Linked DNA regions of Homo sapiens. The protein of the gene in region 1 purifies or fractionates together with the protein of each later gene. This does not show direct contact. Each region holds a gene or a part of one and is shown on either strand. Other genes may lie near its edges. The genes, in order: SMIM12 and IL36A.

Region 1 (3,762 bases):
CTGGTTGGTCACTCGTTTAGATACTGCAACGAATATCTTATATGAAGCTTTTCCTGCGTTTTGGAATAAACAGTAAAAATAGTAAATGTCATTTTGGATGAAATGGGATAAATGAGCAGTTTTGAGGATCTCATGCATAACACCAAATGTCTTTCCAAAAGGGCTCTAGGAGTTTCTACTAAATCTTACCACTGAAGACGTTGCTGGTAAGGCTGTGAGGGGAGTAAAAGCAGAGAGCAGGAAGAAGCATAAGAAGCTGTTGCCTCTTGAAGCCTACTGATGTTTAACTAAAGTCAGCACAGGGCAGTAGTGAGCATTTGATGAATTGATCTGCCTCTAAAAGGGAGTGGGTATTGGCCCTGCTTCTTAGGTTCTCTCTCGTGAGGCCTGATGGTGTCCACAGGTGGGTGAGGGTGGAGTTCCTGAACAGTTAGAGGGGCCAGCTGTGAAGAGGTGCCAGCTGGAGGTGCCTTCCAGGACCTGGTGGTGGCCTGAGAGGAGGGAGCAGGTTGAGTCGTTGGCTTCTTCTAAGGCTCCCTGAGGCCTAGTGGGAATGCGGAAATGAGCTGCTGTTGCTTCCCAGGGAACAAATCGGATGGAACTTGGGAAGAGACTGTCAGCTACCAAGTAAGGAGATTTCTGGTTCTGGCTGCAGGTTCTGGCTGATGAGCAGGCCTTATCGGCACACCAGTGCTGCCACCCTATGGCAGTCCTGGGCATTACCAAGCCTGCAGTCACTTCCCTGGGCTAAACCAAACACTAGTGCTGACAGAGGTCAGGTGACAAATGAGCCACCACGCTGGCAGAAAGTATAGACCTGCCGAAAGGGGGCAGTGGTGACTCACCTTCCAATCTGCTGCTCATCCAGTGGTACCAGATTTTTGAATTTTTCTAAAAGATGTTCTAAGAGCTCCAGAGGGGGTAAAAAAAAAAAAATGAAGAGATGCTAGAAATTCAGGGTTTTTTGGTGTGTGTAACCTTCTGATTTTCAAGTGTTGATAATTCATTATACAAAATTCTAAGCATGCTATCATACCCGTGGGGTTAATTTGACCCAGTGGCTGCCAATTTGTGACCTCTCAAACTGCCTCCTCCTTCTGATGACACCTATAATTATGGTTTTTTTTTTTTTTTTTTTTTTGGCGATCTAACAACTTGTTACAAATATTAGATCCCAGAATTGGTTTCCCTCAAAACACTTTTGGGCATCCTGTACAAAGGCAGCTTAATAACCTAAGAAAAATGTGAGGATGGAAAGCCTACAGAAATAATAGCAAACACATTTCCCATGGACATTTTTGGATTTTCAGATCTTTTAAAATATCCCTGTCACCACCCGTTGGCCTCCACTTGGTGTCTGGTCGAGAGAGCCCTATCTTTGGGAATCCAGGTGGCTCCCTTCTTCCAGTCTCACTTTGATTGTGCCCCCTTTTAAATTCTTTTCTTTCCTTTCCAAGGGCACTTTGTCACTGAATTCTTCCTCTAGCAAGTCTATTAGTGTTCTCAGCTAGATCTTTCTTTCCCACAGGCTGGCTGAAATCAGCCGTTGCGGTGGCTGTAAGATAGTATATGTGCTCTTGCCTCTGCTCGGGTGACATTAGATAGCAAGGTTTATGTGGACGTGGGTATAGACAGGTCAGGGTTGCTGGGATGAACCAAGGTGCAGACCGGTTTTCTTCCATGCTTGCTGATTCACCTTGGAGGCATGTGACCCTCTTTTTGACTGGCCTTCCAGTCACAGTTCACTGAAACACATGAGTGAGTGGATGTGCTTGGGGCTTTTTGCTCCCCGCTTACCCCCGTCTCTTCCCAGCCCAATGATGGTGGTGGCTTTAGTATAGGGTCCTCTCCGAGCACGGCAGGAATCACTTCTCTCCCTGCAGCGGTTCAGTGTCTGGTGCTTTTCCACTCTTTCTAGACTCTTTCCTGTGCCTGTTGCTGTGTTAGCACAAGTCGGCTGGGCAGCTGCCAGAACAAGCCTGCCAGGGAGCCTTTTGACTCTGGTCAGCTCCCCAGGGCTCCAGGCTGGTGGGACTGCCGCTGAGTGAAACATCATGGAATTAGCCTTGCCAGAGTCTGGGTTGGGAGCCAGGCAGTGAAAATGTAAAAGCCCCTCCGTCTTGCTCACTTTTCCTTTTCTACTTTGCTTTAGATCTCTAAGCACTTGTAGGGTAGGGAGCCAGGGCAGTGTAGCAGAGGAAAAATAAAGTGGATTCTAGAGTCTGACAGGCTCGAGTTATGAATACTGCCTTAACAATTAACTGGATGACCTTGGGCAAGTCACTTAGCCCTTCTGAACCTCAATATCCTCACCTGTAAAATAGGGGTAAGAATTTTTGTTGGGTTGTTGTGAGGATGAGGTAATTATGTAAGGTTCTTAGCATAGTACGCTAAGAACTTTATATACATTGTCACAGACTGTGCTAAAACTTTACATACATTACCTCATCCTCACAACAACCAGTAGGTACTCAGTAAATGTTAGCAGCTTTAATTGTATTGCAGGAAGAACCTATGTTTCCTGCAATAGTTGTGTGTATCCTTGTGACCCTGGTGAGGTGGGGATCTAGGGGAGAGAGCAGCCTTGGCTGAGGGACAACAGGGACCCTCATAGACCTGGTGGTTGAGGGCTGCTTAGAAATATTTCACAGAGAGAACTGGCTTGCATAAGAACCAAGAAGCACAAGCTGGTCAGGAGATTGCAGGCTCCACACCTGCCTTAGTGGTAGTTCCATCAGTGCAGTCTGCAAAGTCAGAGGGAAGCAGATTGGCCAGAATGCCCAGGAGGTCACAGATCAGGAGAATTGGGAGGGGAAAGAGCCTTGGACTTGGAGGCAAGCGATCTGAGTGATGACCTGGGGTATGCCGCTTCACCTCTACTGGCCTTGGTTTCCCTGCAAAATGGGGAACGTGTTCCCTGCTGATCGTGTGAAAAGAGTGAGACAACCAGTTTAGAGTGCTCTGAAAACATGCAAGTGCTAGATATTACAGCCCAGTAAAACCTCCTTTATCTAGTTGGGATGGCAGCCAGTCTGAATAATAAAATACAAATACATGTGCTATTATTTCTTTCCTGTACAGAGCGTATTTTATAGTATTTGCTAAGTAGAAGTCTTTAGGGGAATCAGTTTGAAGAGTGAAGAGTAATTAGTAACCGGTGTATCAGTTTTCATCCTGTTCCAGCAGTGCCTCTGGTACTTAAAAAACAGTTTATTCTTTTTGAATTAAACTTGTTAACATCAATTATGTGTTAATCAGATCCTTTTTACATAATACAAAAGTAAACTCTGGCTTTGTTTTTTGTTAAAAAATGCCTAATGGGCCCTTCTAATTATTCAGATTTAAAAAAATCTTTACTAGCGCCCCAGCAAGGGCACCTTTTCCATGTAGAAGAATCCAAAGTCCTTAGGGCCCTTATTCCCTCTCTCACTGCCCAGTTTCTTCACTTCCAACCCCTGCTGCAATTCCGTTTCTCCTTCTCTGAGCCTAAGCTGCTAAGTGCAGCTGGAGTAATTTGCATAACCATCTCGCCCGGCCCTCTTCCTTCATGGGTTGTGGATGCAACAGAGTCTGCAACACTTCAAGGTAATTTTTTTTTTTTTTTTTTTTTTTTTTTTTTTTGAGACGGAGTCTCGCTTTGTCACCCAGGCTGGAGTGCAGTGACAGGATCTCAGCTCACTGTAAGCTCCGCCTCCTGGGTTCACACCATTCTCCTGCCTCAGCCTCCCGAGTAGCTGGGACTACAGGCGTCCGCCACCATGC
Region 2 (3,918 bases), on another chromosome or scaffold:
AATGGTTTTTAATGTGAGGCTCTGAAAAATGTGTTGACATGAAAGTTTTTGAGAATACAAAGCATTGATTGGGCCATTATTTGTTGTTCAGAAACAGAAACTTAAAGAATATTTATGTAACAGTTACTGTAAATTTCAAATTAAAACAGTTATTTTCTGTCAGGTTTCTGCACCTTCAGCACTATTGACATTTTAGGCAAGATGATTCTTTGTTTTCAGGGTCTGTCCTGTATAATAATATAGGATGTTTAGTAGCATCCCTGTCATCTACCCGATAAATGCAAGTATCACACCCCCATCCCAGGTTGTCACAACCAAAACATCTCCAGACATTGACAAATGTCCCTGGAGCAATATCACCCCTGGCTGAAAAACACTGTTTTATATCTTGTCATCAAGTTGAGTGTCTGCTTATGCTTGTTTACTGAAAAGGGTCAAGAGAGTTCCTGTAGTACACAGAGGCCTGCTATAATTATCTTTTTTTAATAATGGAAAATTGCGATTATTGAAGTGTTTATTACAGAGAATTATGTTTGTTCATTTAAAGTTGCAATGTATTTTTTGCCAAAAAGATGTTTTAATAAGTTCGTCTACTTTGTGATAATTAACTGCTAAAATGTCCTTGCTGATTTTACTCTGTGTGTGTGTTCTATTGAAGTTAGACATCATCCTTGCCAAATTATTAATATTTTTGTAAATTAAAATAATAAGTCATTTTAGTAGGTTTGTTTCAAAATGTCCCTGCAATTTTTCTTAGTCTTTCATAACATATACCAACCCCAAGGAAACCAAAAATAAAAATGCATGAGCATAATAAGTACATTGTCTTTTAAAAGATCCTGAAATCTGAGTTTCCATCAAATAAATGGCAGGACCTGTCTTCCACACTCACCTTCAGCTGCAGTGTGGGCTGGTCCCCGACTTTAGCACACATCAGGCAGAGATTGAGTCCATTCAGGCCCAGGTAGATGGGGTTCCCTCTGTCTTTCTCAAGGGTCTCCACATGTCGGCATGAGATTAAGGCAATAGTGACTGGGAACACGATGTGAAAAGTGGTGTTCAGCTGCCATTTCCAGGGTGGTACCTCTGAGCCAGAGTTTTAAGGGAATCTGCTAACTGACACTCACAGTGCACTCATAGAATGGTCACCTCACCACCCACCACCTAACCGGGACACCCATCCTATGTTTGGGGAACACTTTCCATTAGAAAAGTCAGTCTTTCATGGATTCAAAAACTGGTCCTCCCATAGATTACCCTCTTTTGTCCTACTCTTACTCCTTGAAGTTTCTCAGAATACGTCTTCCACTGTTTTTCATAGGCTGACCCTTCAGTCTCCCTTAAGCCTTCTCTCTCTTCTCTGACTTCATGACCATAGTCCCAGAACAACCTTATGCTCACCCTCTATTCATTATTGTCTGTGAGATGCTCCTCTCTGTAGATATGCCCGGTTAACAAGCCCACTGTGGAATAACATCTGAGCACCAAACACACAACAGCACTGGCCAAAGGAGCTGCCTTTCACAGACCGTGGCTACTCACCTGGAGACATACGGTCCTTCCTCGGGACTGCTATGAGCGTCTGGTCCTGAAGAACCCACACCCGATGATTGATATCCTGAATGCTCCCCTGCTGAGGTGTGTCAATTTTCAATGCTGTTGAGAAAGTCAAAATGTAAATTAGTAAGAATGAGAGCACAGAATATCACCCCCTTGTCAATTTTTCGCCCTTCCACGAGGATCTTTACCTTTTTCCATTGTGGTGGTGTTGTTTCAGAACTGCCAAGGATAGGAGTCCTTTTATGTGCAGACCGACCCCAAGAGAGGACCTGAGTCAGTCCCAAGCCACAGTTTAACCCTGGGTCAGATGAAAGACTGGCGGCCAGCCCAGCAGTGACCCCAGTCAGAATCTATACTCCCAGAACTCACCCAGCACCCTTACTTTGTTGGATGCAGTCTACCTCCAGCAGAAGCAGCTGCACCTATGAATCCTGCCCAGGCCTAGACCCAGGAACTCTAATATGACAAAGAGTGCCAAGGCCAAAGACCTGGAAGCAAAAAAAATCAGAGGTCACCAGACTTTCCAGCATAGGCCACACTGATAATCTGTTACGAAGGACCCTGTATCCCTACCATTATGAACAATGGCTTCTACTGCACTTGGGTTTTCTGACAGGCTGTAACAGGGCCCAGGCCTTTTATCCACATGGGCAAGGAAGGAAGTTCTGCCTCACTAAGTCTGGCACTGCCCAACACTCAGGATATTTTCTAGTTCCTGATGCCAGAGGATTTAGTGACTCTTTATGTGAACAGCATGGTTAAGACTTCTCCAAGCAACCTGAAACATGAGGGCATGCTAAACTTTTAAGAGCAGGAAATATAGTCACAGATACTGAGTTGAGAAACATTACGGGACTTCTTCCGGGTCAATGACTCATCTCTGATGCCACAAAATGAAACGATGGAATTATTCCTAAGAGTGGGAGCCCTCAGTAAGTGCAAGGTAGACTGAGGAGGGATAGGTCTCTTAAGACCTCTGTAGCTTCTAATCACTCCTGGTCCACAGGAACTATATTCTTGGTCAATTTCAGACCAGAAGCCCACTCACTCCAGTGACCCTCCTCCAGCTTCTCAGAGCCACTGTGCATGCTGCTTCTCCATGGAAGAAGGGAGTATTACTGTAGCAAAGCCAGCTCCTGAGCACTCTAGCCACCTCAATGGACTCTAGATCACTATCTCTAGTATAGGTAGCGTGATAGTAAATTTTAAGTGTCAATTTGACTGGTTTAAGGAATACTTAAAGAACTGGTAATACATTAGTTTGGGGTAAGTCTATGAGGGTGTTTCCAAAGAAGATTGGTGTGTAAGTCAGTGTACTAGTGGGGAACATCTACCCTCAACGTAGGTGGGATCCATCCAACTGGCCGGGGGCATGGATGGCATGGAAAAGACAGAGAAAAGGTGATTTTCTGTCTCTCCTGGAGCTGGGGCATTCTCTCCTGCCTTTGGACATTATAACTCCAGACTTTGGACTCCAGGACTTAATATCAGCATCTCCCTGGGTTCTCAGGCTTTCTATCCCAAAGTGAGAATTACACCAGTGGCTTCCTAGTTCTGAGGCTTTAGGACTTGAACTGAGCATGTTACCTGCATCCCAGGGTCTCCAGCTTGCAGGTGGTCTGTCATGGGATTTCTCAGCCTCCAAAATTGCATGAGTTCATTCCCCTAATAAATCCCCTTTCATACAAGAGGTCATCAAAAAGTTCATGGAAAATGCATATTATGAAAAAAACTATGCATGGATTTTGAATTATTTTGCACCAAAATAAACTCCTACTAACTTGTTATAAGGTGTTTGAACAGGATCTAGTTTGAGGCACTAAGAAAGGTAAGACATCAGTTTGAAAAGAGCCCCTATAAGATCAACATGAATTCTTCTAAAATTGAAGCAAGAACAAAAATCAAATTTATGGTGAAACTTGGGTGGAAGAATGGTGAAATCATTGATGGCTTATAAAAAGTTTGTGGGGACAATGACCCAAAGAAATCAGCAGTTTACAATGGATAACTCATTTTAAGAAGTGAGACAATATTGAAAATAGCACCTGCAGCAGCAGACCATCCACATCACTTTGCAAGGAAAAAACTAATCTTTTTGTGCCCTAGTTGAAGAGGACTGAATATTAACAGCAGAAATGATAGCCAATATCATAGACATCTTAATTGGTTCAGCTTACACAATTATGACTAAAAAACTTAAAGTTGAAGCACAATGGCTCATGTCTGTAATCCCAGAACTTTGGGAGGCCGAGGCAGGCAGATCACCTGAGGTCAGGAGTTCAAGACCAGCCTGGCCAACACAGCAAAACCCTGTCTCTACACAAGTTTGTCAGTTGACCCTGCAGAACCCACTTATAC

What was found.
Region 2: the proteins of SMIM12 (region 1) and IL36A purify together in Homo sapiens (affinity purification with mass spectrometry; one large-scale study listed by BioGRID and IntAct). This does not show direct contact.

What each region holds. Positions count from the first base shown.
Region 1 is NC_000001.11:34,849,843-34,853,604, reverse strand, and holds the end of SMIM12 (small integral membrane protein 12), read left to right. Parts: 3' UTR 1-3,243; downstream 3,244-3,762.
Region 2 is NC_000002.12:113,003,712-113,007,629, reverse strand, and holds the start of IL36A (interleukin-36 alpha), read right to left. Parts: upstream 2,172-3,918; 5' UTR 1,759-2,171; coding exon 1,749-1,758; intron 1,657-1,748; coding exon 1,543-1,656; intron 1,033-1,542; coding exon 893-1,032; intron 1-892. UniProt on the Homo sapiens protein: Cytokine that binds to and signals through the IL1RL2/IL-36R receptor which in turn activates NF-kappa-B and MAPK signaling pathways in target cells linked to a pro-inflammatory response.